Homo sapiens: one gene and its partners. The protein of the gene in region 4 purifies or fractionates together with the protein of the main gene of each other region. This does not show direct contact. Each region holds a gene or a part of one and is shown on either strand. Other genes may lie near its edges. The genes, in order: SLC25A17, RFC4, OLFM4, EVPL and PKP2.

The links.
Region 1: the proteins of EVPL (region 4) and SLC25A17 fractionate together in Homo sapiens (co-fractionation; one large-scale study listed by BioGRID). This does not show direct contact.
Region 2: the proteins of EVPL (region 4) and RFC4 purify together in Homo sapiens (co-immunoprecipitation; one large-scale study listed by IntAct). This does not show direct contact.
Region 3: the proteins of EVPL (region 4) and OLFM4 purify together in Homo sapiens (co-immunoprecipitation; one large-scale study listed by IntAct). This does not show direct contact.
Region 5: the proteins of EVPL (region 4) and PKP2 purify together in Homo sapiens (co-immunoprecipitation; one large-scale study listed by IntAct). This does not show direct contact.

Annotation. Positions count from the first base shown.
Region 1 is NC_000022.11:40,768,756-40,774,372, forward strand, and holds the end of SLC25A17 (peroxisomal membrane protein PMP34), read right to left. Parts: intron 5,265-5,617; coding exon 5,182-5,264; intron 2,227-5,181; coding exon 2,079-2,226; 3' UTR 875-2,078; downstream 1-874.
Region 2 is NC_000003.12:186,794,925-186,801,433, forward strand, and holds part of RFC4 (replication factor C subunit 4), read right to left. Parts: intron 6,272-6,509; coding exon 6,193-6,271; intron 2,691-6,192; coding exon 2,611-2,690; intron 1-2,610. UniProt on the Homo sapiens protein: Subunit of the replication factor C (RFC) complex which acts during elongation of primed DNA templates by DNA polymerases delta and epsilon, and is necessary for ATP-dependent loading of proliferating cell nuclear antigen (PCNA) onto primed DNA.
Region 3 is NC_000013.11:53,040,807-53,047,315, forward strand, and holds part of OLFM4 (olfactomedin-4 precursor), read left to right. Parts: intron 1-1,103; coding exon 1,104-1,316; intron 1,317-2,298; coding exon 2,299-2,458; intron 2,459-6,509. UniProt on the Homo sapiens protein: May promote proliferation of pancreatic cancer cells by favoring the transition from the S to G2/M phase. In myeloid leukemic cell lines, inhibits cell growth and induces cell differentiation and apoptosis.
Region 4 is NC_000017.11:76,020,021-76,026,529, reverse strand, and holds part of EVPL (envoplakin), read left to right. Parts: intron 1-2,409; coding exon 2,410-2,509; intron 2,510-2,875; coding exon 2,876-3,030; intron 3,031-3,111; coding exon 3,112-3,238; intron 3,239-3,991; coding exon 3,992-4,117; intron 4,118-4,302; coding exon 4,303-4,341; intron 4,342-4,501; coding exon 4,502-4,663; intron 4,664-4,748; coding exon 4,749-4,856; intron 4,857-4,966; coding exon 4,967-5,062; intron 5,063-6,509. UniProt on the Homo sapiens protein: Component of the cornified envelope of keratinocytes. May link the cornified envelope to desmosomes and intermediate filaments.
Region 5 is NC_000012.12:32,874,864-32,881,372, reverse strand, and holds part of PKP2 (plakophilin-2), read left to right. Parts: intron 1-2,340; coding exon 2,341-2,453; intron 2,454-2,829; coding exon 2,830-3,527; intron 3,528-6,509. UniProt on the Homo sapiens protein: A component of desmosome cell-cell junctions which are required for positive regulation of cellular adhesion.

The DNA of each region.
Region 1 (5,617 bases), on a different chromosome or scaffold from region 4:
ACAGACTTCAGCTCTTTAGTTTCCTCAAACAACTTATTATTAACCAATGGTTATAAAACTAGGTGGGTTACTAACTAGTTTCAACTAGTGAGTTTGTAAATTTCCATAAGGAACATAACCCTCAATGTTAAATTGTTTCCTCATAAAATCAGAAAAAGAGAAGCATCAAATACATTCTCACATCATAAATACCTAATACAGCTATATAATTCGAACTGGAAATTATCCTAACAGACCAACTCACAATATTCTGAGCTCAAAATTCAAGTTCCAAAGGGAACGGCATAATTAAAACAATAATGAAAATACACATGACACCTTTATGATCATTTTTCTCCTATACAGAAATCAAAATAATTTTGTACTTCCCACTCAAGGTCTGCCACAGGCACACAAAAACCTTAAAGTAAAATTAAAAAATAGAAAAAACAATTCTGTCTTCAATTCTCTGACTTAAATAGGGGATGAATGTTCAGTCTTCTTCCCAGATTATTAGCTCCTGCTAATTTTTGTTTGCTAGAACAATGCAATGATCTTTAACAATCATATACTTTGAAATTACCACAGGGACTAAAGAGAGGAAATAAGAGAAGGAAATTTCCACTCTCAAAATTGAACTAAATCCTTAATAATGAAGTATTTCATTATTACTCTCTCTGACTAAATCATGGACTTACAAATGAAAAACCCGCCATTTTGTCATAGGGACAAAAAGGAAGTCATAGAAATCCAAAGAACCGCTCTGCTAATGTCAAGTGAATTTGCTTCCTGAGTGGGTCGAGATATCTAAATCCACTCCTGGCCGCATAATAAAAGCCTTACCACCTTAACAACGTGCTGTGAGGTGAAAGCAAAAGATGACATACGACTCCTAGATTTTTCAGAGGTTGTTTTAATACATTAATCTCTTTCCTTTGAGAAAAATCTTTATCTTGATGTCTATAATCGAAACCAATCACTTCTTCTCATGGGTCAGGGGTCCTATGGTCTCCTGAACTTTAATGTGGCTGTGAATCACCTGGGAATGTTAAAATACGGAACAGGATTCAGAAACTCTGGGTTGCGTGCCCAGCAAGCTCTCAGCTTGTGGCAGTACTACCGTCTGATGGACCACACTGAGCAACAGGACTCTAAGGAAGGTTTCCAAATGAAATAACCTCAACCAGATGTTTATTTTCAAAATATACGGCCTACACCAAGTTTATAAAGGGAGATAATATCCAGACCTCAACAAGATATCTGCTCCCCTTCTCATTTTTGTGATTTTTCCCATCTGGTTGCAAACTCAACGTAATACCTTAATAAAGAGCAATTTTCAAGAATATCTTTTTTGTGCTGACCATTTATTGGGACTTGACTGACCAGGGCTTGTAAGAATGGACACAAAACTTCAAGTCTTTCGTAATGAAAGGATTGATTCAAAATAAATATTCTAAAAATTATGTCAAACACTAATGAATAAGTGACATTTACAAATAGTTTATAAGAGAATCATTTGGGTGAACAATTTTCATTTCACAAAATAAATAGCTCATATCCAAAAAAGACACCTCTCCTTAAGCAGGGAAAAAAAAGCCCAACAAAAATAAAGTCATGCCCGTGGCACAGCCCTAATGTTAGTTTTAGGGAGGAAAACACCAACACTGAGACATACAAAAGTATTTGAGGAGAATTACATGTTATTAAATTTGTCCTAGAACCTGGGGGAGAGTTCAGGGAAAGAGAACAGCTGGTATATTTAAGAAAGATTTAAATAGAAAACATTACACATGAGAGCAAAATAGTCCATTTCTCTTAAGAAAACCAATAAACACTCACAAACTTTCATTTTTAGGTTTTCAGCAATGTTTTTTTCACATTAGTCCAACTGCCACCCCAAAATCCAACCAGCCAGCATGACAATTAAGGTGACAACAGGTCCAGTTGGCCATACTCCCTGTGCACCCTTGGATGCTTTTCAAGCCAATGAGGGTAACATTTGTGGTGGCAGGAGCCAGAGTCAAGGGAGAATCACTTCTCTTCACTCAGGAGGAAACCTCCCTCTTGAGCATCTTCGGAATTTTTCATGGGAAGGCGTCTCAGTGTTGGTGTGCACGCTTCAGCCCCATAACTGTGAAGGTGGCAGCTGTCAGTTTCTCATAAACAAGGAACATGAGAGCAGCAGTGAGGACTGTCTGCAGCAGTTTGGCTTCAAGGCCTTTGTAGAGTCCCATTATTCCAAAACGTCTAAAGGGAAAGAGGTTTGAAAAAACAGAAGTCAGCTCCTGCATCAGAGAACATGCTACCTAGATAGCTACTTTGATAAGAACAAGCAATAGAGGTTTTAGATTTCAACACAGACTTCTGTTGTCAAAGTACTTTCCTTTTTTTGAGACGGAGTCTCGCTCTGTCGCCCAGGCTGGAGTGCAGTGGCGCGATCTCGGCTCACTGCAAGCTCCGCCTCCCGAGTTCATGCCATTCTCCTGCCTCAGCCTCCCTAGCAGCTGGGACTAGAGGCACCCGCCACGACACCAGGCTAATTTTTTTTTGTATTTTTAGTGGAGATGGGGTTTCACCATGTTAGCCAGGATGGTCTCGATCCCCTGACCTCGTGATCTGCCCGCCTCAGCCTCCCAAAGTGCTGGGATTACAGGTGTGAGCCACCGTGCCAGGCCCTAGTTTTTGGTTCTTACAAATAATGTCTTAAATTTGGAAGCAAGCTACATGTCCATCAACAGATAAATGGATAAAGAAAATGTGGTACTTATACAAAATGCAGTACTATTCAGCCATCAAAAAGAATGAGAGTTTGTTGTTTGTAACAACATGGATGGAACTGGAGGTCATTCTGCTAAGTGAAACAAACCAGGCACAGAAAGACAAATATCGCATGTTCTCACTTATTTGAGGGACCTAAAAATCAAAACAATTGAACTCATGGAGATAAAGGTAGAAGGATGGTTACCAGAGACTACTGGGAAGAGTAGTGGCGGGGGGAAGGTGGGGATGGTTAATAGGTACAAAAATAGATAGTTTGAATAAGACCTAGTATTTGCTAGCACAACAGGTGACTATAGTCAATAATAATTTAATTGTACATTTAAAAATAACTAAAAGAGTATAATAGGACTGTTTGTAACAAAAAGAATAAATGTTTGAGAGGATAGATACCCCATTTTCCATGATGTGATTATTATGCTTTGCATGCCTGTATCAAAACATCTCACATACCTCAAAAATATATACCTACTATGTACCCACAAAAATCAAAAATTAAAAAATTAAAAAAAAAAAAACAAAGCCATTATTAACATTTGTATACAAGCTTTTGTGTAGACATATGCCTTCATTTCTCTTGGGTAAATACCCTGAAGTGGATGGCTGGGTCCTATAATAGGTGTGGTATATAAAAATTTTTAAAGAAAATGCCAAATTGCCTTCCAAAGCAGCTGTACCATTCTATATTCCCACCAGCAGCATAAGAAAGTAAGTTCTGGTTGCTCCAACATCCCTCCCAATACTTGATATAGTGAGTATTTATTTTTTACTTTATACATATTCTTTGTCTTTTATTTTATTTTATTTTTTGATAGAAGGTCTCACTCTGTTGCTCAGGCTAGAGTGCAGTGGCACAATCACAGCTCACTGCAGCCTCGACCTCCTGGGTTCAAGCAATCCTTCCACCTCAGCCTCCTGGGTAGCTGGGACTACAGGCAGGCACCAGGATGCCTAGCTAATTTTTTATTTGTGTAGAGACGGGGTCTCACTATGTTGCCCAGGCCAGTATCAAACTCCTGAGCTAAAGCGATCTGCCTGCCTTGGCCTCCTAAAGTGCTGGGATTATAGGTGTGAGCCACCACGCCCAGCCTAATTTTGTCTTTTAGTCCCTTGAATGTTCTTTTTTTTTTTTTATTTTTTTTATACAAGGTCTTGCCTCTTTAGCCCAGGCTGGAGTACAGTGGTGCCATCATAGCTCAGTACAGCCTCAATCTGCCGGGCTCAAGTGAATCTCCTGCTTCAGCCTCGTGTGTAGCTGTGATTACAGGTTTGTGCCACATGCTTGGCTAATTTTGTAAATATTTTTTGTAGAGACAGGGTCTCACTACTTTGCCCAGGCTGGTCTTGAACTCCTGGCCTCAAGCTATCCTCCTGTCTCAGCCTTCCAAAGTGTTGGGATTACAGGCATGAGCCACTTTGCCTGGCTGCATATTTTATTTTAATAATAAATTTATTTTCAAAGTATCTTGTATCTAGGAACAGTAATAAAGTTATAAGAGCTTTTGCTTCAAAGGAGGTCCCTGACTTATCTGACTTCACTAAGTGTCAGTTTCTTTAAATGAAACAGGAAATGACAATAGTTCTTAACTCACAGAGCTACTGTTAGGATTGACAAGGCTGGGCGCGGTGGCTCACACCTGTAATCCCAGCACTTTGGGAGGCTGAGAAGGGCAGATCACGAGGTCAGGAGATCAAGACCATCCTGGCAAACACAGTGAAACCCCATCTCTACTAAAAAATACAAAAAATGAGCCAGGCGTGGTGGCAGGCGCCTGTAGTCCCAGCTACTTGGGAGGCTGAGGCAGGAGAATGGTGTGAACCCAGGAGGCGGAGCTTGCCGTGAGCGGAGATAGCGCCACTGCACTCCAGCCCGGGCAACAGAGCGAGACTCTGTCTCCAAAAAAAAAAAAAAAAAAAAAAAGGATTGAGATTACCTATGTGTAGCCTCTAGGTCAGTGTCTGCCACATGGCAAACCACTGAAAATGTTAGCTACTCTTACCAACACCACCATCATCATTATCATCATCATCATCACTATTATCACTTTTTCCACTGCCCCCTCCCTTCTCCAGTACTCCTATTCTATAGGCAGATGTTATATTGCTAAGAGGCATCATAGGATATGCCACTGATGAAAGCACACTCAGGGTGACTGAAGTATAGAAGGGTTCTCTTTCTGAAGGAGTTCTGAATATTTGTAACTAACAAAGAATAAGAACCTGAACTTTTCCATAATTTCCCAAAATGCTGTCATACTGTACTAGGCTCCTAAAATGGGAAATGTCTAAGCACAGCAAGCAAGGGAAAGGTTTTGGAGGTTGCCACCACCAAGGCAGTAGTGTGAGAGAGGGAAATGCAACCCCTCCCTGGCAGAGATGGCTGCTGAAGGAGAGCACGGAATGTGAGGCATCTACAAAGCTCACCTTACTCGTTGGTGAAGAAGATAGAGAATATTCCGAAGACTTCCCAATGTTCTGTTTTCTGGGTTTAGTCTATGACGCCCAAACTGAGGAAAGAGGGAAAAAAAACAAAAGTACTGTTGCTGTTTTTTAAAATCTTCATTTTTACCTGGGGAGGATATTATGTTGGAGTAGTATCTTATAGCATACATTAATAAATTTATCCAATTAGTACCATAGATTTCATTAATCCTGTATTTTTCAACTGAGTGAAATATTTCAATCAAATAAGTGAAAATAAGAAAAATTTTTCCTTTTTTTTTTTTTTTGAGACATCTTCTCACTCTGTCACCCAGGCTGGAGTGCAATGGCACAATTTTGGCTCACTGCAACCTCCACCTCCCAGGTTCAAGTGATTCTCCTGCCTCAGCCTCCCGAGTAGTTGGGATTATAGACATGT
Region 2 (6,509 bases), on a different chromosome or scaffold from region 4:
GCAGAGTGCTGCAGTTAACATTTTGGCTTTTTTCCATGCATTTAAAAAAATGTAGACATTACATAACATATACAATTTCTTTTCTTTTTATTTTTTTGGAGACAAGGTCTTGCTCTGTCACTCAGGCTGGAGAACAGTGGCATGATGATGGCTCACTGCAGCCTTGAACTCCTGGGCTCAAATGATCCTCCCACCTTAGCTTCCCAACTAGCTGGGACTATAGGCACATGCCATCACACCTGGCTAATTTTGTTTACTTTTTGTAGAGGCAGGGACTCATTATGTGGCCAGGCTGGTCTCAGGTGATCCTTCCACCTTGGCCTCCCAAAATGTTGGGATTACAGGTGTGAGGCACCACACCTGGCCCCACATATAAAATTTTAAATCGATTTTCCACTTTGCATTTATAATAAGTATCTTGGCATATTATCAAAACCACTGTAAATAACATTTTAATAGTCATATGATATTCCATCCTATGACTGTACCATCATTTACTTCACATTCTTCTATTGTTAGACATCTAGATAGTTTTAAATACTGTAATTTTAAATAATGTTATAATATAGCACATTTTAAATTATTTCCGGCCGGATGTGGTGGCTCATGCCTGTAATCCCAGCACTTTGGGAGGCCGAGGCGGGTGGATCACGAGGTCAGGAGTTCGAGACCAGCCTGACCAACGTGGTGAAACCCTGTCTCTACTAAAAATACAAAAATTAGCTGGGCGTGGTTACAGGCACCTGTAGTGCCAGCTACTCAGGAGGCTGAGGCAGGAGGATTGCTTGAACCCGGGATGTGGAGGTTGCAGTGAGCCGAGATCGCACCACTGCACTCCAGCCTGGGCAATAGAGCGAGACACTGTCTCAAAAATAAATAAATAAACAAATAAATAAATAAATTCCACAGGGTAGTTTGCTATAAGGAAACCTACTGGATTAAGGAAAATTAATGGATTAAAACATGAGCAGGTTTTTAAAGTGAGTTTTAATAAAAATTACTAAAAGTAATATATGCTTACTGTAGAGAAATTTGAGAAATCAAAAGAAAAAAGTGGGCACACTGTCAAAGCACTGTTTTTGAAACTTCCCTCTAGTCTTTTACACACACACACACACACACACACACACATTTAAATAAAAAACAAGAGTTGTGATTTAGTTTCATCTCTATTTTTCCTAATCAGCATGGTATCCTAAGCATGTTTATGGACATAAACATTTACATGCATCTATTTTCTATTTTAAAGCCACAATATTAAATATGAAATTCACTGTTAAAGTAAGTTCTTTAAAGACAAACATTATTTCATAAAGGATATAGAAAAAGTTGTATAATCTGGACTGACCTACTCTAAGTAATAATAAACAACTGTTAAGGCTGATTCAGATTGGTTCTATCTGATTGAGTTGTGGAATAATCAAAAAAGTTCTTCTATAATTTTACTGAGAATAAAAAATTGCTGTCAAATAAAATATTAGGCACATAGCAGCTTCTCCCTTTGTCTTTTACATTTTGACATAACTAATAATCCTTACACATTTGGTGATTTCAGTGGCGTCTTTTTTTTTTTGAGACGGAGTCTCGCTCTGTCACCCAGGCTGGAGTGCAGTGGCGTGATCTCGGCTCACTGCAACCTCTGCCTCCCAGGTTCAAGTGATTCTCCTGCCTCAGCCTGCCGAGTAGCTGGGACTACAGGTGCATGCCACCATGCCTGGCAAATTTTTGTATTTTTAGTAGAGATGGGGTTTCACCATGTTGGCCAGGCTGGTTTCGAACTCCTCACCCCAGGTGATCCACCTGCCTCGGCCTCCCAAAGTGCTGGGATTACAGATGTGAGCCACCACACCCAGCCTATTTTCATATGTAGGATTTCAGATATTTCTATCAGTTGTATGTCTGATATTAATTCTGGATAAACTCAAAACAGCCTTTGTTATGTTGGTGCATGTTTCATGTATATCAGACCCAGCCCACTACACATCTTTTAACTCTAGGTAAAGGGCTCCTCTAGAATGGCTGGTTAAGCCAAGATGGTCAATCTAGGAAGAGGAACATAAGAAGGTGACTCACAGGAAGATTTTCTGGTGTACCTGGAATCACACTACATCAACCATCACTTGTGCTCAGGAGACCTGAGGCAAGGAGCTGGACTGGCCACTCCAGAGTCAGAGCCTAGGAAGTCCAGAGCAGGACTCAAGAATGGATGGTGCAAATAGTGCCATCAGAAACAGCAGATTCTATCATGTAGCCACACAGATGTGAACACAATCATTAAGAGGGTGATAAAACTATCAGCACAACTGGACATTAAGTTGGGCCCTCTGGACTCCAAAGTTATAATGGAAAATTTAAAGAAAGTGATGGAAAAAATCATAGGCTCCCCACACTTGAACAAGATTCACAATGAAGGTCACAAAAGACGCAGGCAAGCTGATTTCTTCAGGGGAGTGAGGGAGGAACAAAATGGCTCATGGGATTTTTAAAAATCAGAAATAGAAAACTATCCTACAGAAAACGAAACGCAAATTTTTAGAGGAAAAAAAGCAATATCAGAGAATTTTGGTGTCAAATCTTTAAAAAAAGAAAAACAGACTGATTTCAACGTACCCAAAGAGTTCTCTAGCTGCTGCCAAAATAGTGGATGTTTTTCCAGTTCCAGGTGGTCCGTAAAACAAGAGATTAGGAAGCTGTAGAAATTAAATTTTATTTTTAATAAATGGTATTCTGGCACAAATAGATGAAAAGGAAGATCGAAAAAAATGTCTGTGGAATAGTGCAATGACTTCTCTAATAGGGCACGTAATTTCTAAGTATAAAGTTTTCTTAATATAACTGATATCATAGTACTGACAGATTTAAATCCTGCTTTTTCATATACTACCACTTTTTTCCCCAAGTGTCTTTTTAATCTCTTAAGCTGAACCAATATTTATGCTTGCTCTATAGCTAATCCACTTAGGTGAAATTTTCAAAGCTGGAATGAGAAACCTTTTATTTCTAAAGGGAATCTCAGTTTCCTATCCCACCTCTATGCTCAAGATTAGGTAAGATTTTATATTACACAAAATGTCAGCTGCTTCAAAGGGGAAGCAGACCAAAAGAGTAATGGGATTTGGCCAAAACTGAGGAAAAAGGACTAAAAAAGACATAATTAGGGCTTTGGATGAGCAGAAGTACCAAGAACAGAAATATTAACAAAAAATCCAAAACTAGATATATATTAAGTACTAGGCACTGCTCCACATCATGATTATGCACTCTGTAAGGATGCTTGCATGTATCAGGGAGAATTCATTAGAAGAGGAAAGGATAAAATTAAATCACTAGCTACCTTCTTTTATACCTTGTATCTAGCTAGTTTGGCTCCTATCAAGCAGTCGACTGATCCGTGGTGAAAATTAATAAGTCAACTAAATTCTAATGAGCTCTGTTATGATACTGTGCAATCTTCAGTATGTCCTGTCACATAAGGAAATCAGTGTACACAGGAAACTAGGCATTAGAGTTTGTTTCCACTCTTGCCTAACCCTCCCTCTTCCTGTCCATTCATTCTTCACCTAAATCAGATACCACTCTGCTTGCTACTTAAAACTATTCCACTTAGAAAAACAAAAACAAACCAAAAAACCCTCAGCTTTTTACCATGGCCTAAAGGACTTCCATGATCTGCCTACCACCTCCTTCACCTTCCAGGCTCTAGCTTACAATGGCTTCTAACAGCTTGGCACTTTCTGGCCCGAACATATGTTGCTCCCATGACCTGGAGTCTGATCCTCTTCTTTCTGCCTGGCCAACTCCTAATGCATTACAAATCAGAAACCATTCAGTCTAAAGTAGGTCTCCTCTCCTATTCTCTCATTAGTGTTTGTTGCATTTTGCATTGGTTTATTGTTATTTCACTGTGGGGCTTAATTGTAAAATGCCTGTCTACTTCATTAAAAGACCAAGAACCTTATTTGTTCTATTCACATCTGTATTCTAGCATCTACTACAGTAGTCAATGTTGGCCAAATGAATGAATAAACCAATACATAGACAAATATGTTAATTAGAAGACTATTACTGTTACATTCATAACATATAGCTTACAGAACAAACTATGAGATTCATAACTTAAAAACCTCCCAGGCTTCTTAGTAATTAAGGTCTACAACTATTATTTTGATCTGTGCATCCCTTAACAATGTAACGATTCATCCAGGTTAACTATCAGATACAATAATTTAAATTCTTTGAAACAGGGTAAAATTATTAAACCTTAATTATACACTAGTCTAATATATGTAGTACATTCAAGAACTGTATGTGGAATACCAGTTCTTAAAATCAATTTCTGAAAAAATTATCTTCTTATAATTCTTTAAAACCTTTCAAAATAAATTGAATGAATTGTTTTCCTTTACTCTTTTGAATTAAAAAAACTATTTCACCTCTTTACAAAACTTAGTCTGAAAAGGTGCACAAAATATTAAACTGAAGTTCTTACTTCAGCCTCATAAATTACGTGGCATAAAGTCAAGAACTAGATCTTAGGCTGGGCATGATGGCTCATGCCTGTAATCCCAGCATTTTAGGTGGCCAAAGCGGGCAGGTCACTTGACATGGCTAAACACCATCTCTACTAAAAATACAAAAATGAGCTGTGTGTGGTGGTGCATGCCTGTAGTCCCAGCTACTTGGGAGGCTGAGGTGGGAGGATCACTTGAGCCTGGGAGGCGGAGGTTGCAGTGAGCTGGTATCACGCCACTGCACTCCAGCCTGCGTGACAGAGCAAGACTCTGTCTCAATTACAAAAAAAAACAAAAAAACAAAAGAACTGGATCTTAATCTCACTACATTTGCTGAAGATACTAGTAATTAAATTAGATATTGTCCTGCAATCTGTGTAATTACTATGCAACTGCAATTAAAATGGTATATACTGTTACCAAGATATGCAAGCAGAATATACCAAAAAATAAAATGCTATACTATTATAAAATTAAAAGGTATAAGAGTATTTGTGTTATTTATTTTTTATTACTTATTTATTTATTTATTTTTGAGACCAGAGTCTCACTCTGTCACCCAGGCTGGAGTACAGTGGCACAATCTTGGCTCACTGCAACCCCTCCGCCTCCCAGGTTCAAATGATTCTCCCGCTTTAGCCTCCTGAGTAGCTGGGACTACAGGTGTGTGCCACCACGCCTGGCTACTTTTTCTAATTTTTGGTAGAGATGGGGTTTCACCATGTTGGCCAGGCTGGTCTTGAACTCCTGACCTCAAGTGATCTTCCCATCTCAGCCTCCCGAAACGCTAGGATTACAGGCGTGAGCCACTGTGGCCGGCCAAAAAGGTATAAGAGTATGCGAGTCAAATCAAAACACATACTGGTAAAGAAAAAGATTCTAAATAGTTTTATAAATTTAACTTCTTTCAAAATGTGTACTGTAGTAATATAATTTCAGCAAGGGAATGATGGCAGCAAAACCCAAAAGAACTTCTAATTAAAAGCAGCCAGATTGAGAGGAAGGAAGCAAATCTTGAAACTAAAGCAAAAACCACATCCCACTTCAGCACTTTACTGAGCTGTTAAAGCACTTTGGGCATTCATCATAACACAACTTTAAGTTGCTAATTTTTCACATGGGTTTATCTTATCTCAGAATAATTTACAATGCAAGTTATCCATGGATACTTTATCCCCCAGATCACAGCAGAAGAGAGAGCTATAAGCAGAATTCAAAGCTCGATTTTTTTTTTGTATTATAGGTCAATCCAAATCCTAAAGTTAGTAAGCAATTATACTTTAGAGGAATCTCTGGCTCTTCTTTATAGCACATATTACTACCTATAATTATTTATTGGTTTACTTGTTTATTCTATCTTTCCTTACCAATAAAAACCCATGAAAAAAGGGGCATAGTTTGTCTTGTTCTATGTTTTATGTCTTGTTCTATGTCTATGTTTCATAGTTTGTCTTAATTACTATGACTTTTACTTGAATACTAGGTAACACTGCTATGTAAGATTAAATAGGAGATGCTCAATAAATATTTGAACTAATTATCATTGTACAAATAGTTATCAAGGACCTACTGTACACAGAGCAAGATATTTAACGAGGGCTAGAAGTTATAAAGGAAGAAAGAGGGTGAATAAATTAAGTCTTAAATATCCCAATGACATTAAACACCATTTGCAACTCACATCTGCTCCTTCTAAAGATTTTTTCAGCACTGCAACCACTTCTTCCTGGAAAGCAACTTCATCCACACATTTTGGGCGACTTGCGGGGTGAGAAGGAGGAAAGAGGTTATTTAGTATATTATAGTAGCCACAGAAAACTCTCAAGTGTTCCTTCTACTAAAATACCAATGACCATTCTTAAACATCAGCAATGAAATGAGAAACTTTTTCATAATCGGAAATAGGTGGAAACCCCACTTGTTTTTACCGTAACCAAACACATTCTGAAAGAGTGAAATAATGTTTTACTTCCTTTCTGCATTGCTCGAATCTGTTAT
Region 3 (6,509 bases), on a different chromosome or scaffold from region 4:
TGATACAAACCAGTTTAGTTTGGGGAGTTAATGTCTTCAAACATTAAAATGGAGATTAAGAAAAAAGGGCTCAATATCACTTGATCATTAGAGAAATGCAAATCAAAGCCATAGTAAGATACCATCTCATACCAGTCCAGAATGGCTATCATTAAAAAGTAAAAAAATAACAGATGCTGGTGAGATGGCAGAGGAAAGGGAACATTTATACACTGTTGGTGGGAGTGTAAATTAGTTCAGCCATTGTGGAAAGCAGTGTGGTGACTCGAAGAACTAAAAAGAACTATTATTCAACCTAGCAATCCCTTTACTGGGTATATGCCCAAAGGAATATAAATTGTTCTACCATAAAGATACATGGGCGTGTGTGTACATTGCAGTACTATTCACAATAGCAAAGACATGAAATCAACCTAAATGCTCATCAATGGTACACTGGATAAAGAAAATATGGGCCATATACACCATGGAATACTTTGCAACCATAAGAAAGAATGAGATCATGTTCTTTGTAGGAACATGGATAGAGAGCTGGAAGCCATTCTCCGAAGCAAATTAACACAAGAACAGAAAACCAAATACCACATGTTCTCACATATAAATGAGAGCTAAATGATGAGAACACATGGACACAAAGAGGAGAACAACAGAAGCGTACTTGAGGGTGGAGGGTGAAAGGAGGGAGAGGAACAACAACAAAAAAATCTATTGGGTGCTAGGTTTAGTACCTGCGAGACAAAATAACCTTTACAACAAACCCCCATGACATGAGTTTACCTATATAACAAACCTGGGTATATACCCCTGAGCCTAAAACCTTTTTAAAAAATGGAGATTAAAATATACCTGCAAATGATGATGCTGAAGCAAAATTATGTTTAGCCTAGCAAAGTATAAAATCTACCTCCCTTCAATTGGAGTAATAAGTTCTTTGTATATGGATAGATTTTAAAAATCTAGTTAAATGTATTTTTGATCTATTTATTTACAAAACACAATGATTGGCAAGAATCAAATAGTTCTCAACTCAAGGGCTCGGTAGTGGAAGAAGATGGTGTGATACTACTCAGGGAATTGGCTTGAACCTTTTGATTTTCTTTCAGGTGAGGGAATATGTCCAATTAATTAGTGTGTATGAAAAGAAACTGTTAAACCTAACTGTCCGAATTGACATCATGGAGAAGGATACCATTTCTTACACTGAACTGGACTTCGAGCTGATCAAGGTAGAAGTGAAGGAGATGGAAAAACTGGTCATACAGCTGAAGGAGAGTTTTGGTGGAAGCTCAGAAATTGTTGACCAGCTGGAGGTGGAGGTAAGGAGTGAACTCACTTCTTGGTAAATTAATAATAAACTCCCTTCAGTGACTGTAAGCAAGTACTAGTACCAGGAAGTGAAACTATCTCTTCCAACTTCTAATTCTCTACTGTCTCATGGCCACATGGCATATCACTATGTTCTGTTTTGGATAAGGGCATGTGTTTGAATAGTAAGTTAAGCACATTGGGAATGTGCTGACTTAGGAGCAGATGTTGTCTAATGGTCAGAATCCTGCCCCAGAATAAAATGCCCTTTCAACTTCTCTGAAAAGGAGCTGGCATAAAGTTGAACAACGGTTCATGGCCAAGCTATATGAGGTGTCTTCTCTGCTCTAGATTTATCCTCATGGAACTAGAAATCCACAATATACCTGATTGTGGTAAAATTGCTAGGTTTGTTTCTCCTTTTGAATAACCTGGAATCCTTCTCTGCAAACTGGAAACCCCCTTTAAGAAATTTCTTGTATATTTCTGTAAAGCCTTTTAAGATCTGTGGATAAAGACCATCACATTAACGTTATGGTTGGGTAATTTATATCAACAAAAATTTACTAGCACAGTCATGACATGGGCTATAATTGAGAATTCTAGTTACGTATTTTAGAATTTAAGCTTTCTCTGGCCCTCACCATTCATTAGAATCTTAATTATAATACAACATGAGTAAACACAAGTTTATAGGGGAAGGTTATTAGAAATGAACTTTAATGGACATTTGTGGATGCTGAGGATGAGCTTGGGCTCTATTATTAAAGCTATTAAAATCTTTGCCATTTTCTTCTTGTCACACACATCTGCCTGAGATCTGACAGGCATTCATGCTAAACCATAAAATGTATTCTTCCAAATGAAACCATTCAGAAGAATCTCTGGTGTATTCTCTGGCAATGTTTCACTAAATGACAAATTCAGCCCTGGAATGTTTATGAAAGAAATTGCACCATAATATAAAGTCACTCTGAATTTTTATTTCCTTAGATAAGAAATATGACTCTCTTGGTAGAGAAGCTTGAGACACTAGACAAAAACAATGTCCTTGCCATTCGCCGAGAAATCGTGGCTCTGAAGACCAAGCTGAAAGAGTGTGAGGCCTCTAAAGATCAAAACACCCCTGTCGTCCACCCTCCTCCCACTCCAGGTAAGCATGCCAGTTTTTTTAACCACTTGTGCCAGACCCCATAAGGAGCTGTGAGTGGGGTGGGGAAGGGATTGGGGATTGCAATGGTGAAAGAAGAAGGTGGGTTGTTTTTTTTTTTTTTTTTTCAGTTCTCAGTTTTCTCTTCCATGTTTTAAAATTCCCTTCCTCCCAAGTATTCTACATGCTATCATATTCTGGGTTTCAAAGAGGAAGAGCACAAACAATGAGTTGATTTAAAGCAAAATCCACGAGTTACACGTATTCTCTTTGCATTTTCTAACAGGGAACAAAAATCTCTATGGTGATGGAGGCCCTATCAGGGGCCTCAGGGGAAAGCCTCTGGAATCTGTGTGTGGCATCCACTTTCCTGTGGAGTTAAGGACTGATTGGCTCACTTATCTGATGAGCTGGGTTTATGCCTTTGATGCTGCCATCTTCTCTCTCTCCTTCTGTTTCTCTTTAATTTTTTCTTTTTTCTTCCTATAAATGCATGCTGAGCACCTGCTATATTGTGTGTCCTGAGATTCAGTGAGGATTAAAGGAATGACCCCACATATCATGTGCTTGTGGGTGTGTCTTGCCATTCCTCATGGATTGTGAGTTCTTGGAGTAGGGGTGGCATGTTCGTCTTTAATGAATTCTCATTGGGGTTAAGTACAGCACAGAGGTGGGTGTTCTGCAAATATACCCATGAACAGAGGCAGTGGAGTGTAGGGTACAAGAACATAGCTTTAGAATTCCAAAGACCTGAGCTTCTCAGCTAGGTGGCTGCAGCAAAAAGGATCCTTAATATCCTCATTTGTAAAATGGGAGAATAATAGTGCCTGCCTTGCAGGGTGGCTGTGGGGATTAATGAGTCAGTGCTTGGGAAGCTCGGAACCTTATGATCGGCACTCACACGCTGGCAATGGATATTGTTAATAATGTTGATAATTGAAGCGAAAGCCTTGCAGCAAAACAAAAGCAGTGCCAGATTACTGTGCCCTGCAATGCATTCCTTCAGGTAAACTAAAGCCTCTCAGCCACAGTGTTCAGCCCCATCCTTTAGAGATATCAATGACACAGGGACCTTCTCTCTGCAGGTCCTGAGCATCTTAGCCTGAGTGGGGACTGTATCTTTTCATCAAATCATGCAATCCTTTTATTTTTATGAATTCCAATCCTCACACCTGCTTTCTTTTAGACTGTGTTTCTGGATTATTGTCATTGTAACTGATTTTTTAAGGCTTCAATTATTAAATAGGTATAGCCATAGATATAAGCCTCTTGGTCTTCTTCAGGTGGATTTTTTTCCTCCCTCTGCAAATAGGAGTGTGTCCTACTATGACAGGTGTCATCTAATGGTTAGAATCCTGCCCCAGAATGAAATGGCCTTTCAACTTCTCCAGAAAGGAGGTGACATAAATTTGAACAACTGTTCAAATTTCGCATCCTGCATAGGAGGTTTAGGGCAGACAACATGGTCTGTCCTCTGTAATAAACTAAGGCTAAATTTAGTCTGGGATTAGTGGTGCAAAAATGTAGCAAATGAGAGCTGTTTCTGGTGGACCACAGAGGACTCACTGAGGCAGAGGCTGAAGCAATGACAACTCCTGATAATCCCTGAACGAGCTCCCCAACACCCCTTGCAAATCCTCCTCATGGAATAGATTTTTCTGGCACAATTTTCTATGCATCCCTTAGAATGAGGACATTTTAGATGAAGGAATATTCAGGGCCATCTAACTTAGCCTCGTCTTGTCTCAGAGGAGAAGACGTGGATGGTAAGAACGCTGCTTTTCCTGAGGCCACACAAGTAGTTAATGACAGAGCAGAAGCTGCAAGGCAAGGGTCTTTGCTCCCTGGTCAGTTCAGGACCGAAGGTGTCAGGCAGCAGTAATCCAAGGACAACGGTGGGGAGAAAATGCATTGCTTAGTATCCAGGGAAGAAAACAAGTGAGCCTGTTGGGTTGTTTTTGTTGGATTTTTTTTTTCCCAGAACTTTCCCCTAGGCCCTCACACTTAGACTTCTGTGATCCATCCTAGCCCAGCTGTGTTGTTTAAGCAAATTGGACCCAGATTTTTACTCACTTTCCCACAACCTTGGCTGTACCTGAATCCCTGCCAAGCCACTTGGCTCTCTTCCAGCTTTGTTCATATTATATTTATGATGTTTATATTAAACTGACTTTTGGTCATGTTTTTAAATCAATTTCTTTCACTTGCTCTCTTTCTGTTTGGATTGGTTGATAATGCAGAATTGGAAAATCCCCAAGCACCACAAACTTGTGAGCCTGTGGAGACTTTAATTAAAGTTATTCTCTATTATGGGACTTTAAAATCTGGCCTGTCTGCTTTTTTCACTGCAGAGTTGCACAGAATAAAAAAGACTATATGCAAGTCTCAGCTCTAAAGTAACTCTGCGCTCTCTGGGCCCCCTCCCTTATAGCTACAGTTTGCTGACCCAGTGGTCAGCTTGAACTTAGAACAAGTGAATGTATCCCAGGTTCAATAAAATATGCTTCCTATTTGGTTTTTGCTACAAACAACGTCCTTTTTCTGCCTCATTTCATAGAACTTTCTAATCTAAAATAATTGGCCTTCTACTCATTAACTTTTTTCCCTTAAAACTTCAGTCTGTCTCTGTTTTGCCTGTGAATCTAAATGACTGTATATAGGCCAAATGTGATCGGGTGCTCAGGGGTTGATCTCCAGTTTGCTTGGGGATGCAAGGTTCTGTGCTGGTCCATAGTGATGCTCAGTAAGTAGCTGATGATTAAATGGGGTCTGAAAGAAATGGGGTGACCTGCTAAAATCTCAAGCTTAGGGAAGAGCCACATGTTGAACAGCATATATCCAACACTTCAGAGTCAATTTAGTCTTAATCATTTTATGACTATGATTGTTTTAATTGCCTAATTCTTATAAGTCAATCATATTCTCCTCCTGGCTCAAACAAAGTTCAGTTGCCCAGTTGAGAGAGTGCATTAATAGATCCAAGACTAATTTTCCTCTGTAGGCATATAATTATTGGCTTCAAAAAAATGCTACTAACCATGATACTTTTAAAAAGCCAAGTCAGAATATTTTAAATTCTCATGATTATGGCTTCCTCAGGTATTTTCAGAGTACCATGGTGCCATCTAATGAATTGCATGATGAAGAGAGTGCCAACCAAGGCTAAACTTCTATAGAGGGTTCCTCAAATTATGTTCCATGGAGTAAATGCCAGGCTTTTTGAAAAACCAGATATGTAGCAGGGTAGAAGGCTAGTGTTTTATAAATAAGGGTAAGCTGAGTTTAGGTGACTTGATTAATCTTTCATTCCTTTATTCCACAAACATAATTTGGTGCCACTGTGTGGCTGGCCCTGTTCTGGGTACTGGGGTTACCAGCATGAGTAAAGAAACCTCCAGAAGCCACTATCTAGGAAATGAGACATCTAAACCTCCAGTTGTAACATGATGTGATTATATTGAGATATTTACCATTTACTGAGTAACATTTACATGTCTTCTCTGTATTTTTCGTAACTATTTTGCAGAGTTGGTATTATTTTTCTTCTGACATGAGGAAACTGAGGCTCAGAAGGTTAAGTAACTTGCTCAAGGATACACAACTACTGTTGGAATCAGGCTTTGAATTAGAATCTGTCTAGTAGTATTTTCCATACTAGGCTGCCTTCCATAGCTGCTCTAACAGAGAGGTGCACCTGTGATTTCTGGAGTGAAAAGAAAATTCCAACAACTCACCTATCTGCTTAACACCAAATTATTTTTGCTTCCTTGGTAGTGGAGTAGGTAAAAGGGTACTGTTGCTCCTGACAGTTCTGTGCTGTGTGTTCTCTTCCACCAGAAAATGCAAAATGATTCAATGGTCTTTCAGAATTCTTGGATCATGATTGGGCAATGGGCTGTTGCCCAAGTGTCAGGGTGAAATTGGGATGGAAACTGGGTATGAAGTATGGAATGAAGTATGTCTAAGACCTTGACATGAAGGAAGGGGCTGGCAAGGAGCATGAGATAAGGGAGGGTGGTGAGAAGCTCAGTGAAGATGGGATGGGGGGATGGGG
Region 4 (6,509 bases):
GAGTTAGGGGTTCATGGCCGGGCGCCGTGGCTCACGCCTATAATCCCCGAACTTCAGGAGGCCAATGCGGGAGGATTCCTTGAGCCCAGGAGCTCGAGACCAGCCTGGACAACATAGGGAGATCTTGTTTCTGTAAAAAAATAAAAATAAAAAATAGCCAGGCATGGTGGCTCGTGCCTATTGCTTGAGCCCAGGAGTTTGAGGCTGCAGTGAGCCATGATCACACCCCTGCGCTCCCGCCTGGGTGACAGACTGAGACTCTGTCTTAAAAAAAAAAAAAAAAAAAATCCTGGCGCAATACCTCACGCCTGCAATCCTACAACTTTGGGAGGCCGAGGCGGGTAGATCACTTGAGCCCGGGAGTTCGAGACCAGCCTGGGCAACATGATGAAATCCCGTCTCTACAAAAAATATACAAAAATTATCTGGATGTAGTGGCGCATGCCTGTAGTCAGAGCTACTTGGGAGGCTGAGGTGAGAGGATCACTTGAGCCCGGGAAGTCGAGGCTGCAGTGAGCCGTGATCACTCCACTGCCCTCTAGCCTGGGTGACAGAGCAAGACCCTGTCTGTTAAAACAAAATAGAGCTGGGGCTTCCTTTTCCAGTGGGTGTGGTGCAGGGGGCACTGGGCCTCCCTTGGACCACCCGGCTCTCTGGAGCCCAGCCTCAGCAATCTGTGGATGGATTGGGCGGTGTTCTTCCCACTCACTGGCTTCAGCTCGTCTGCAGAGGAGGCAGCAGCCCGCCTGGGTCCAGGGTGTCGAGATGACCTCAGGGATGAAAGGCTGGTGTGGGAGTGGGGGTGCCCATTACCCCGATAGGGATCAAGGCACCAACAGACACCGAGGCTGGGTGTCTGGGCGGACGGGAAAGACAGTGGTTAAGACTCTCAGCTAACACTCTCGCTGAGTGACCTGTCCTCCCTGGGGCACCTGAGCCCCACCCAGGGTGGAGTGTGCAGCTCCCGGTGGGAGCAGCCATCCCAGGAGGCGGGACCTGAGGAGGGGCGCCCAGGGCCCAGCACCTGCAGCTCCCACTGTCCAGGCAGGCTCCCCAGCAGTGCGCTCCTGGCCTGGGGCAGCTCCGTCCTCAGGGCCCTGTTGGCTCTCCCCTCACGTGCGATCCACTCGTTTGACATGAACTTACTGAGCACTTACTGTATGCCAGGACTGTTCTAGGCACTGGAGATGTCACTGTAGACAGAACCAACAAGCCCCTGCCTTCAAGGCACTAGCCCTCTAATGGGATAAAAACTAACACGTGCTGGGTGCCGACCCTGCACCAGGCCTGCACTGGACGTTTCAGATGGATAAATTCAATTAATGCTCACAATAGCCCTAAGGCATAGATATTTTTATTAAAATCCCGCTTTACAAGTGAGGAACCTCAGGCACAGAGAGGTTGAGTAACTTGACCAAGGTCAAGTCCATCATCTTTCTGATGGAGAAAGATGAAACCAGGGTGTCTTGGCCACAGAGTTCTTCCAGACTGCTGTGCCTTCACCAGCACTGTCCCTTTGCCTGGGGGGGCCCATCCTTTGACCCAGTTCAAGGCTTCTCCTGCCCCAGCATAATGATCCCCCATAAGGCACTGTGCTCATAAGGCTTGGACCAATCTGCCCTCTTTTAGGTCTGCTTGACCTTGTGACCTCCGCACAGTGAGTGCATGCACACAGCAGGTGCTCTATGGAGGCTGCAGGGCGAATGCACAGAAAAAGCCCTGGGGTGGAAGCAAGGTTTCCCCTCCACCCCTGACCATGTGACTCAGAGCAAGTCAGAGCCCAATCTGGGCTTTGAACCCTCAACTCTGGAGAATGTTAGGGTGCCCAGTAGTCTCTTGCGCCTGCCCCACCTCCCCGGCTCCGACAGTGTGAGGCTCCTCTAGATGGCTACTGAAGCCAGCATGCTGGCAAGGCTCCCTGGGGTGGAGGAGGTATAGGGGAACACAGGGCTGGAGTGCGAGGAGGTGGGGATGGGGGACATGCTGCTGCCTCCCTGCCCCAGCCAGCCCAACTACCCCTCCCAGGGCCCAGCCAGGCTGGCTCAGGTGCTAGTGGCTGAGCCGGTGATTCACTGGCTCGGGGAGGGAAGTGGCAGGTAGCTAGGTGGGGTCGGGAACTCACTGCCAGCACAGCTGGCTAAGGCTGGGACACCGAGGCCGCCTGCCCCCTCCCCAGCACCACACAAACCTGAGACCCTCACCTTTTGACCCCTCATGTGGCGGGGCAGTGCTAACACCCCCAACCAGGACTAGCTCACAGAGCCTTCTGCAGAGAGAGACCCCAAAGTCAGGGCAGTGAGCTAGGCTGTGGGGGCAGGATGGGGTGGAGGGAGGGCAGGGGATGCCACCTGGATGGGGCACAGAGGGGCCTCTTCCACCGAGCTACCCGCTGTCCCCTCCACACACTAGGGCTGCCACCCAGGAGCTGGCCCTTCTCATCTCCCGCATGCAAGCCAACGCCGACCAGGTGGAGCGGGACATCCTGGAGACGCAGAAGAGGCTGCAGCAGGTGAGGCCCCGGCAGCAGTTGGCAGGGCGTGGACAGGCTGGGTGGCATGGGAGGCCCATCATCAGGCCTGGCACTCCCTGAGTGCCCCTTGGTGATGGTGAAGATGGGACAGATGACCTTTGTCCTGCACCGCCCATCCCCTAACACACGGTGGGAGAGAGGGCTCAGCTTCCTTCTTTTCTGGGCTCCCCTGTGTCCTTGTCACCTGCCCCACGGACGCCCTGGTCCTGACCCTGTGCCTGGCGTGGGCCTCAAGGTTGGCTAGCATAGCTGGGGTCCCAAAGTTGGGGCTCAGGCCCACAGTGATGGGCAGCAGGGGTGTGGGGGCTCTGGGCCCTGGCCAGTCTGCCCATCTCCTGCCCACAGGACCGGCTGAACAGTGAGCAGAGCCAGGCCCTGCAGCACCAGCAGGAGACGGGCCGCAGCCTGAAGGAGGCTGAGGTGCTGCTCAAGGACCTCTTCCTGGACGTGGACAAGGCCCGGCGGCTCAAGCACCCGCAGGCTGAGGAGATTGAGAAGGAGTGAGTGGAGCTGCGGCAGGGCTGGGGGTCCCTGGGGAAGACCCAGGTCCAGCCCTGACCTGCCGGCCACCTTCTTGACAGCATCAAGCAGCTGCACGAGCGGGTGACCCAGGAGTGTGCGGAGTACCGTGCCCTGTACGAGAAGATGGTGCTGCCCCCCGACGTGGGACCCAGGGTCGACTGGGCACGCGTGCTGGAGCAGAAACAGGTCAGGAACTCAAAGTCACACCCCAGTGTGATCAGAGGGCGATACGGAACTGCATTTAATCCAGGGCCTGACTGCAGGCTTGAATAGTCAGGGTGTAGGGGTGGCTCAGGGGTCTGGGCAGAGAGACAGCAGAGTAGACAGTGCAGTCAGGGAAGACTTCCTGCAGGAGGAGGTACATGAAGAGACCTCAGAGGGGTGAGAGGGCTCAGTTGGGCCAGGGTGAAGTAGTGAGGAGAGGACAATTCCAGAAAGAAGGAGCAAAGGTTCCTGCCAGGAGGAAGCCTGGGCTTCGACGGGAAGTGGGGATTTCTGGGCAGGTGGGCAGAGCCAGGTCATGGGACATTCTGATCCCTGGTTGAGGAGTTGTGCTTTGATGCCACACAGAAGGGGTGTCATCATGACAATAGAGGGACAGTGGGGAAGGGCCCGGCTGGAGCAGGGCATTCTGAGGGCCCTAGAGCTTGGCTGGTGGTGTCCAGGCAGGAAGCACTGAGGCTGGGTCACAGACAAGGCAGGATGGAGCTGGAGACTTCTTAGAGGCTGAGCCCAGCGTCTGGGAACCAGTGGGACTCAGGGGCCACTGCAGAATGGCCTCGCCCCTGGGGGAGCTGCAGGGCATGCACCCGGGCTGCTCCCAGGCTCGTCCACGCTCTGCCCAAATGACCAAGTCCACTTCTCCGGGTGGGAGGCGTGTGGGGTTCTCTGGCTCCCCACCGCGGTCCTTTGGGGACTGAGCCGCCGGCTCTCCTGCAGAAGCAGGTCTGCGCAGGCCAGTACGGGCCGGGCATGGCGGAGCTGGAGCAACAGATCGCCGAGCACAACATCCTGCAGAAGGAGATCGACGCCTATGGGCAGCAGCTGCGGAGCCTCGTGGGGCCGGTAGGTGAGCCTGGAGGATGTCACATCCGGGGCCAGCCCCAGCCCGTTTCTCCAGTCAGAGCCGGAGCTAGATCGGCTGGGCCCTGGGGATAGGGGTGGGTGGGGTATGGCTGGCCCAGATCTTAGGGGGCCGTCTCCCTGCACCCCACCTCTCACGGGCTTGTTTCTCCCCTTGGTCGAGGCAGGATGCAGCCACCATCCGGAGCCAATACCGAGACCTACTGGTGAGCAGGAGGGAGGGTCGGGCAGGGAGGCTGCGGGTGGGCCTGGGTGGCCGCCCGGACCCTGCCCGGGGCCAGTGTTCCTGAGCGCGGCCCAATGGCGCCTTTTGCCCCCCACTTTCTGTCTCCCCACCCTGCTGCTGGCGGCGGGTCCTGAGCACAGAAGGCGGCGTCGTGGCGCGGGCAGAGCCTGGGCAGCCTGTACACGCACCTCCAGGGCTGCACGCGGCAGCTGAGCGCCCTGGCTGAGCAGCAGCGCCGCATCCTGCAGCAGGACTGGAGCGACCTCATGGCCGACCCTGCGGGCGTGCGGCGGGAGTACGAGGTCGGCTGGCAGAGGTCGGGGCCAGGTGGGGGCGGCCAGGGCCATCCGGGTCCTCACCGCCGCTCCCCACCCGACTCGCCCCCAGCACTTCAAGCAGCACGAGCTGCTGAGCCAGGAGCAGAGCGTGAACCAGCTGGAGGACGACGGCGAGCGCATGGTGGAGCTGCGGCACCCCGCGGTGGGGCCCATCCAGGTGCGCTGGGGCAGGGCGAGAGTGAGAAGGGACGTGGTGGGCGGGGAAGGGGGGAGGTGGGGCGGACGTGGGGGGGGCGTGGTCCGAGGGCTCCATGCTGCCGTACCCAGGCCCACCAGGAGGCCCTGAAGATGGAGTGGCAGAACTTCCTGAACCTGTGTATCTGCCAGGAGACCCAGCTGCAGCACGTGGAGGACTACCGCCGGGTGAGCCCTCGGGCAGGCGGCAGGGGCGGCAGGGGCGGCAGGGGCGGCAGGGGCGGGAGCACAGCACCCCTGCCCACAGGAGAGGCACTGCACCTCCCAACTAGACAGAGCTGGCAGGGCGCGGTGGCTCACACCTGTAATCCCAGCACTTTGGGAGGCCGAGGCTGGTGGATCACTTGAGGTCAGGAGTTCGAGATCAGCCTGGCCAACATGGTGAAACCCTGTCTCTACTAAAAATACCAAAATTAGCCAGATGTGGTGGCACGCGCCTGTAATCCGAGCTACTCAGGAGGCTGAGGCAGGAGAATCGCTTGAACCCAGGAGGCGGAGGTTGCAGTGGGCCGAGATTGGTCCACTGCACTCCAGCCTGGGTGACAGAGAGAGACTCCACCTCAAAAATAAAATAAAATAGAGCTGTGTGGTTGCCACTCGGTCCCAGAGGGAAAGAAAGGCATGGGCACATTCTCAACAGGGTGAAGCGGTTCCCAGGGGGGTGAAAATTGGTTCTTACTGGCAGAAAAATATCTTAACTCTTTTTATGCATGAAGTCCAGATCCACATACAGCACCTAAGCTGTATACAGCATATCTGTGGTATTAAAATTTCGTGGGGGCCAGGTGTGGTGGCTCACATCTGTAATTCCAGCACTTTGGGAAGCCGAGCCAGGAGAATTGCTTGACACCAGTAGTTCCAGACCAGCCTGGGCAACATAGCAAGACCCTGTCTCTATACAAATAGATACATCTCTATCAAAATAAATAAATAAATAAAATTTTATGGGGATGAGGTGGGGGGAAATTAAATAAAATATTTCTTAAAAGGCTCTTTAGGAGAATAATAATGAAAAAAAAAACGGTTGAGAAACCCTGATATAATATGCAACTGGGATTTGGGGGCAGATAATGTTTCATACATTTTCCTATAGAACCACAAGACTGTGATCACACACGTTGACAAAAATTCCGTCAAAGCACCTGGAATGCTTCTTTAAAGCACAGCTTCTTCTCCGGGGCTGGGACAAGTGCAGCTCCAATACCCTCTGTCCCAGCAAGAAAGACTTCAGGTGCTGGAGGGAGGCAGGTGACGGTGCCCTTCATTTGTGCAGGAAGGACGAAGACCAAGTGTTTTATGACCCACTTAAAAAAATTAAGTTCAGTGCACAAATAAGACCCCATTTGCAAGAGCACACCAGTGATAAAAGGTCCTGCCGCCTGGGTAGGAAAAAGAAAGACCGACCAGAGTAGGGGAGAGTGACAGTTTAGGTTTAGCTGGTTTAAGTTTAGCTGGTTTAGGTTTATCTGGTTTAAGTTTATCTGGTTTGTGTTTAGCTGGTTTAGGTTTATCTGGTTTAAGTTTATCTGGTTTGTGTTTAGCTGGTTTAGGTTTAGCTGGTTTAGGTTTATCTGGTTTAAGTTTATCTGGTTTGTGTTTAGCTGGTTTAGGTTTA
Region 5 (6,509 bases), on a different chromosome or scaffold from region 4:
TTAAAAATTAAGTGGCTGCCTGACCTTTTGCCAGCCCTTGTGGAGAAATCAAGCCCCTGGAAACAGGAGATGCCTGGTTTATCTCAACTGCTCTTGTCTCTAGGGTGACAGTTACAAGCCTGCCACTGCCTCCTCACAAGACTCCTTGAGGCCTGAAAATTGTTTATCAGGCAGATTGTTTGGCTATAGGAAATAAGGACACGTGTACAAACATAATTTAGGATGGATTTAGACTTTTTAGCTCTCTGGCAAAAATAATTTCAAATTACCATTCTCCCTCCCCTTGAATGTATCATCAGTATTTTGAAATTTTGTCTTTATAACAGTTTATTGGAAAAGTTATGTTGATGTGTTCCCATTGTACTGGAAAGGAGCACCCTGTGTTGTTGTATTCTCAACATCTTTCATGAGTCTCTGAAGCCTAGAAGAGTTAATTGAGTATATTTTCCCTCTGATTTCTAAAAAATGCTACATGACAGAAAAAAATTTCAGTTAAATGTAAGAAAGTAGATATTACTTGGCTTTTGGAGATTGTTGATTATTTTGATTAGCCTTTTTTTAAGGCAGTAAGAGAAAACTCAAAAAAAGCTGAGAGAAGGATAAAGGAGGCAGAAGAGGGACACAACATACTGCTTTCCACCACTCCCCCCTCCTCAGACAGGAGTATGTGAAGATATATGAGACAGGCATCAGTTGAATCCCTGTAGGCTTCACAGAGCTGAGCACAAAGGGCTGGCTGCTGTCTGTGTTTTCATGAGAGTGGGCTGGCTATTAGACCACCAAACAAAAGAGGGGCCAGGTGATTCCACAAAAGCAGCCATTTGGATGGAGCATAGAGGTTGATTTCCTTTCCTGCCTAACTCTCCTGTTGCCAAATATCTCAACCCCAGCATTGGCCTGAAGTTGATCCATGTTTCCCTTGATCATGCTGATCTACCCTGTTGTTTTTCTTGCTTTTGTTTTTGTTTTTTTGAGACAGGAGTCTTGCTCTGTCGCCCTGGCTGGAGTGCAGTGGCGCTATCTCGGCTCACTGCAACCTCTGCCTCCCGGGTTCAAGCGATTCTCCTGCCTCAGCCTCCCGAGTAGCTGGGATTACAGGCGCCCACCACCACCCCCGACTAATTTTTGTATTTTTAGGAGAGACCGGTTTCACCATGTTGGCCAGGCTGGTCTCAAACTCCTGACCTCATGATCCGCCCACCTCGGCCTCCCAAAGTGCTGGGATTACAGGTGTGAGCCACCACGCCCGGCCTATCCTGTTGTTTATACAAGCTGTCTTATCTAGTAGTGCTGAGTCACCATTATATTTATTGCCTACACCTGCTTATTACAAGAAGCTTCCGAATTCCTGCCTTGGGAACAGAGTTCTGTGACTCGGGAAACTGAATTTTATAGTCTCGACCAGCTAAACCAGACAATGAGTCCCAAATTTTTCAGCACTATAACAACCAAACATTTTTAGATTTTTGTGAATTTCCTCTCCCTTCTTTTTCTTTTTTTAAATTCAACTTTCATTTTGAAAACTTTTTTTTTTTTTTTTTGAGACAGAGTTTCACTCTTGTTGCTCAGGCTGTAGTGCAATGGCGCAATCTCAGCTTCACTGCAACCTCCACCTCCTGGGTTCAAGCGATTCTCCTGCCACAGCCTCCCGAATAGTTGGGATTACAGGTGCCTGCCACCACGCACAGCTAATTTTTTGTAGTTTTAGTAGAGAGGGGCTTTCACCATGTTGGCCAGGCTGCTCTTGAATGCCTGACCTCGGGTGATCCACCCACCTCTGCCTCTCAAAGTTCTGGGATTACAGGTGTAAGCCACCGTGCCCAGCCAAAACTTTCTTTTTGAGACAGAGTTTCACTTTTGTTGCCCAGGCTGGAGTGCAATTGTGTGATCTTGGCTCACTGCAACCTCTGTCTCCCGAGTTCAAGTGATTCTCCTGCCTCAGCCTCCTGAGTAGCTGGGATTACAGATGCCCGCCACTATGCCCAGCTAATTTTTGTATGTTTAGTAGAGATGGGTTTCGCCATGTTGGCCAGGCTGGTCTTGAACTCCTGACCTCAGGTGATCCACCTGCCTCTGCCTCCCAGAGTGCTGGGATAAGAGGCGTGCGCCACCACACCCAGCTGAAAAACTTTTGTAGAGAATGTTTTGATAACCTTTGATCACTTGCCATATCCCAGGGTGGTGTGAAACTAGCATTTAAAAACATTAACGTACGTTTAATACTTGTTCTTGGCCTTCATTACTTAAATTTAAAAGTTTAATACATCATTGTTATACAGTCTGTAAATATTAATTAGCCTACTTGTATTCTGAGTTATTTTAATATTTGCTTGATTGCAGGAAATCTTCACCGAACCAGCAGTGTTCCTGAGTATGTCTACAACCTACACTTGGTTGAAAATGATTTTGTTGGAGGCCGTTCCCCTGTTCCTAAAACCTATGACATGCTAAAGGTAGGATATCAAAGAATGTAACCCTAGTGATCAGATTACTACCATGAAAATATTTTCAAACTTCCTAAGATTATTTTTGAGTGTTTACTTTTCCCAAGTATTATCATTTCCTAAATGAGTTTTGAGAAAATTGATATTTATGAGGATACCATGGAAAACTAGGGATGTGAAACATTCTTACATCCTAGTGCAAATAAATATGACTCAAGTCAACCAAGTCTTATTTTCAAAAAGCCTTTACCCAGAAAGGGGCAAACTTCTCGTCATCTGATTCAGAGAAACGGACATGTTGGGTAATAGTCCCAGAGTAATTAGTCCTCAGCAAAGTTGAAATTTGATTTATGCCCCCTTTAAACTTTATTTCTCTCATGTGCAGGCTGGCACAACTGCCACTTATGAAGGTCGCTGGGGAAGAGGAACAGCACAGTACAGCTCCCAGAAGTCCGTGGAAGAAAGGTCCTTGAGGCATCCTCTGAGGAGACTGGAGATTTCTCCTGACAGCAGCCCGGAGAGGGCTCACTACACGCACAGCGATTACCAGTACAGCCAGAGAAGCCAGGCTGGGCACACCCTGCACCACCAAGAAAGCAGGCGGGCCGCCCTCCTAGTGCCACCGAGATATGCTCGTTCCGAGATCGTGGGGGTCAGCCGTGCTGGCACCACAAGCAGGCAGCGCCACTTTGACACATACCACAGACAGTACCAGCATGGCTCTGTTAGCGACACCGTTTTTGACAGCATCCCTGCCAACCCGGCCCTGCTCACGTACCCCAGGCCAGGGACCAGCCGCAGCATGGGCAACCTCTTGGAGAAGGAGAACTACCTGACGGCAGGGCTCACTGTCGGGCAGGTCAGGCCGCTGGTGCCCCTGCAGCCCGTCACTCAGAACAGGGCTTCCAGGTCCTCCTGGCATCAGAGCTCCTTCCACAGCACCCGCACGCTGAGGGAAGCTGGGCCCAGTGTCGCCGTGGATTCCAGCGGGAGGAGAGCGCACTTGACTGTCGGCCAGGCGGCCGCAGGGGGAAGTGGGAATCTGCTCACTGAGAGAAGCACTTTCACTGACTCCCAGCTGGGGTAAGTCCCCTCCTGACTCTGCAGTTCAGTCATTGCCAGCACATTCTGTTCCCACAGCCCTGACAGCATGAGCTGGCACTTCTGGGGCTTGAGAGAAGGGCTTCCAGAGATAAGTGATTAAAATAATGACTTTTCAGGCAGCTGCCTAATTGACAGATCAGCCTATTTACCTCAGGGACAGGGGCCAAGCTACCTGCTCACATGGCAGCTTTGTATGGAAATGTGACATTTAGTCCATCTGTTCCAGATTAGATGCTGGCTGAAGGGACCCTACCCCTCAGCCATATGAAAATCTGCTCTAAACTCCAAAGTAGGCCAAGAATTGGAGAATTGCATGCGTATTTTCTTCATCATCCCATGAAATAAAAGGAAAAAATGCTTATTCTTAGCACGAATGCCATTTGGATAACTATGACTGTAAAAAGAGCTAAGGAAAGATGGCTGACTTCTAGATGTCTTTTTTCTTCCTTTGGTACTTGGTACCTTTTAGATTTCTAGTGTCAGTGATTTGAAGGGGTATTCTTTTGGCAGTATTAAATTATTAAAATAACTGAATTTTTAAGTCATTCCTTTCCATTCCTATTTACTTTATAGCTTGACTAATTTAGTGTTTGGAACTTAACCCTTATTCAAGTTTAATGCCTGATCACAAATTTTATAAACTGTGCACGTTACTAAGAGAAAGATTGAGAAATGGATGGCTGATTAGATCAGTAACTCCTGCAATAATGATCTAACATCATTAGGCTAAAACATTAGATATGTTATTGTCATTTGATTGCTAAAGTTGTCTAATGATAGTTGTTACCTCTAAACATCCCTTCAAGTGAAATTGTACAGCATGCTCACTGACCAGGTAGCATCATTAATAAACTACTTCTCAAAATGATGAGGGCTAATCTAATCTTAACACAGGAAATATTTTTTATGATGTAAAATTCACCATGAGATTTCTAACATTTCTTATAGTAAGCAGACCTTAGGCAATATGAGCATACTTACAAAGAGGAAAAATAAGCCGGGAGCAGTGGCCCAGGCCTGTAATCCCAGCACTTTGGGATGCCCAGGCGAGCGAATCACTTGAGTTTAGGAGTTCAAGACCAGCCTGGGCAACATGATGAAACCCCATATCTACGAGCAATACAAATATTAGCTGGGTGTGGTTGTGTGCACGTGTGGTCCTAACTACTCGAGAGGCTGAGGCGGGAGGATTACTTGAGCCCAGGAGATGGAGGTTGCAGTGAGCCAAGATTTGTGCCACTGCACTCCAGCCTGGGGAACACAGTGAGACCTTGTCTCAAAAAAAAAAAGAGAAAGTGTATCAGGTCATTGTTTATGGAGGAAAAAGCTGATAAAGGCTTTTAAACAGGTAATTCAAAATTTATGGAATGCCTACCATAGCCTAGGATTTGTGATAGCCACAGTTTTAGCAAAATGATTTTAACAGTAACAAAATTATTATCTGACATCCTCCAACAACTGGCATTCTCTCCCTCCATCTCTGTGTCCCTTGCTTCTTGAACCACCCTGTCACTTCCCAGTCTCTCGTCAACCCACTGCAATATGATTTCAGTCCCCTCCATTCCACCTAAACAGTCTCCTGACAAATGTAGCAATGATGGCCTTATCTGCTACATCCTAAGCAGACACTATATTGAGTAATATAAGCACTGCTTATATTACTCAACCTGTGGGTGGTGTTTGAGACACCATGAAATTCTCTCATCCCTTGGTTTTCAGGGCACCAGCTTCCCCTGGTTTTCCACTCACCTCTCCAGCCATTCTTTGTTAGTGTTCTCTGCGTGCTCCCTTTCTGCCTGCTCAAAGAAGGCATCTTCAGTAACCCTTCTATTCCAAGTCTTGATGCTCTTCCAGAGAGGCTCTGTGTACCTCACTTTTATCCTTATGGTTCTCAAAGTTTTGTCTGCAATTCCATCCTTGATGCCAAATTCTGGACCTATATGAAAATGTAACAACCTCCTGGAAATTTCACACTCAGTATATCCTAAACTAAACTCATCATCTCCCTATCCTCAACTTCCACCCATCTCCTCCTGCTGTAGTCTACTATTTTCAAACCTGGAAGTCATTCTTATCTTCTCCCTCTGTAGTCACCTATCACCAAGCCATATTTTTCCTTCTATGATGGGTCTTGAATTTTTACCCTTCTTTCCATTTCCATTACACAGGGCTCTCTGCCTCTGGTCTTGCTCAGTCAGAACCGTTCTCTAGGACTGTCAGAATTATCTTTCCACATGTGATTGTTTATAACCCTTCCATAATTCCACTAAGTGTTCATGCTTTTAGGCATGACCTACAAGCCCCATTGTGTTTTCAGCTCTGCTTATCACTTCAGCCTCTTCTCCTTCTACTCTTCTCTGCCATTCATCACCACCATCCCCAAACATACCCACATACCAATACCCAAACCACCTGGAACCTCTTTACTTTCCTTAATGCAAGATATTTATCCATATTCATTCTCTCTCTCTTTCCTTCTTTTCCCCCACTCCACACCTTTACATATGCAGCTCTACTTTTGTCTGACTACTTATAATTCTGGATTTAGCTCAGATACCACCTATTTTCTGACCACTTCCTTCCCAGTCTAGCTTAGGTGCCCCAGATAGCAGCCTTGTGTGAGTGTCTCTATCAGAAAAATATATTGTGGCTATTCATTTGCTTATCTGTTCTCCCTCTGGACTTTGAGATTTTTGTGAATGCTCAATCATCTTTATATTCTCAGCACCCTAAAATGGAAGTAGGCCTATAGTAGGCACTGTATAAATATATGATGAGGCCAGCACAGTGGCTCACATCTGTAATCCTAGCACTTTGGGAGGCCCAGGCTGGAGGATCGCTTGAGCCCAGGAGTTTGAGACCAGCTTGGGCAAAATAGGGAGACCCCGAGACCCCACTTCTATTAAAGATAAACAACTTAGCCTGGCGTGATAGTGCCCACCTGTGGTCCCAGCTACTCCG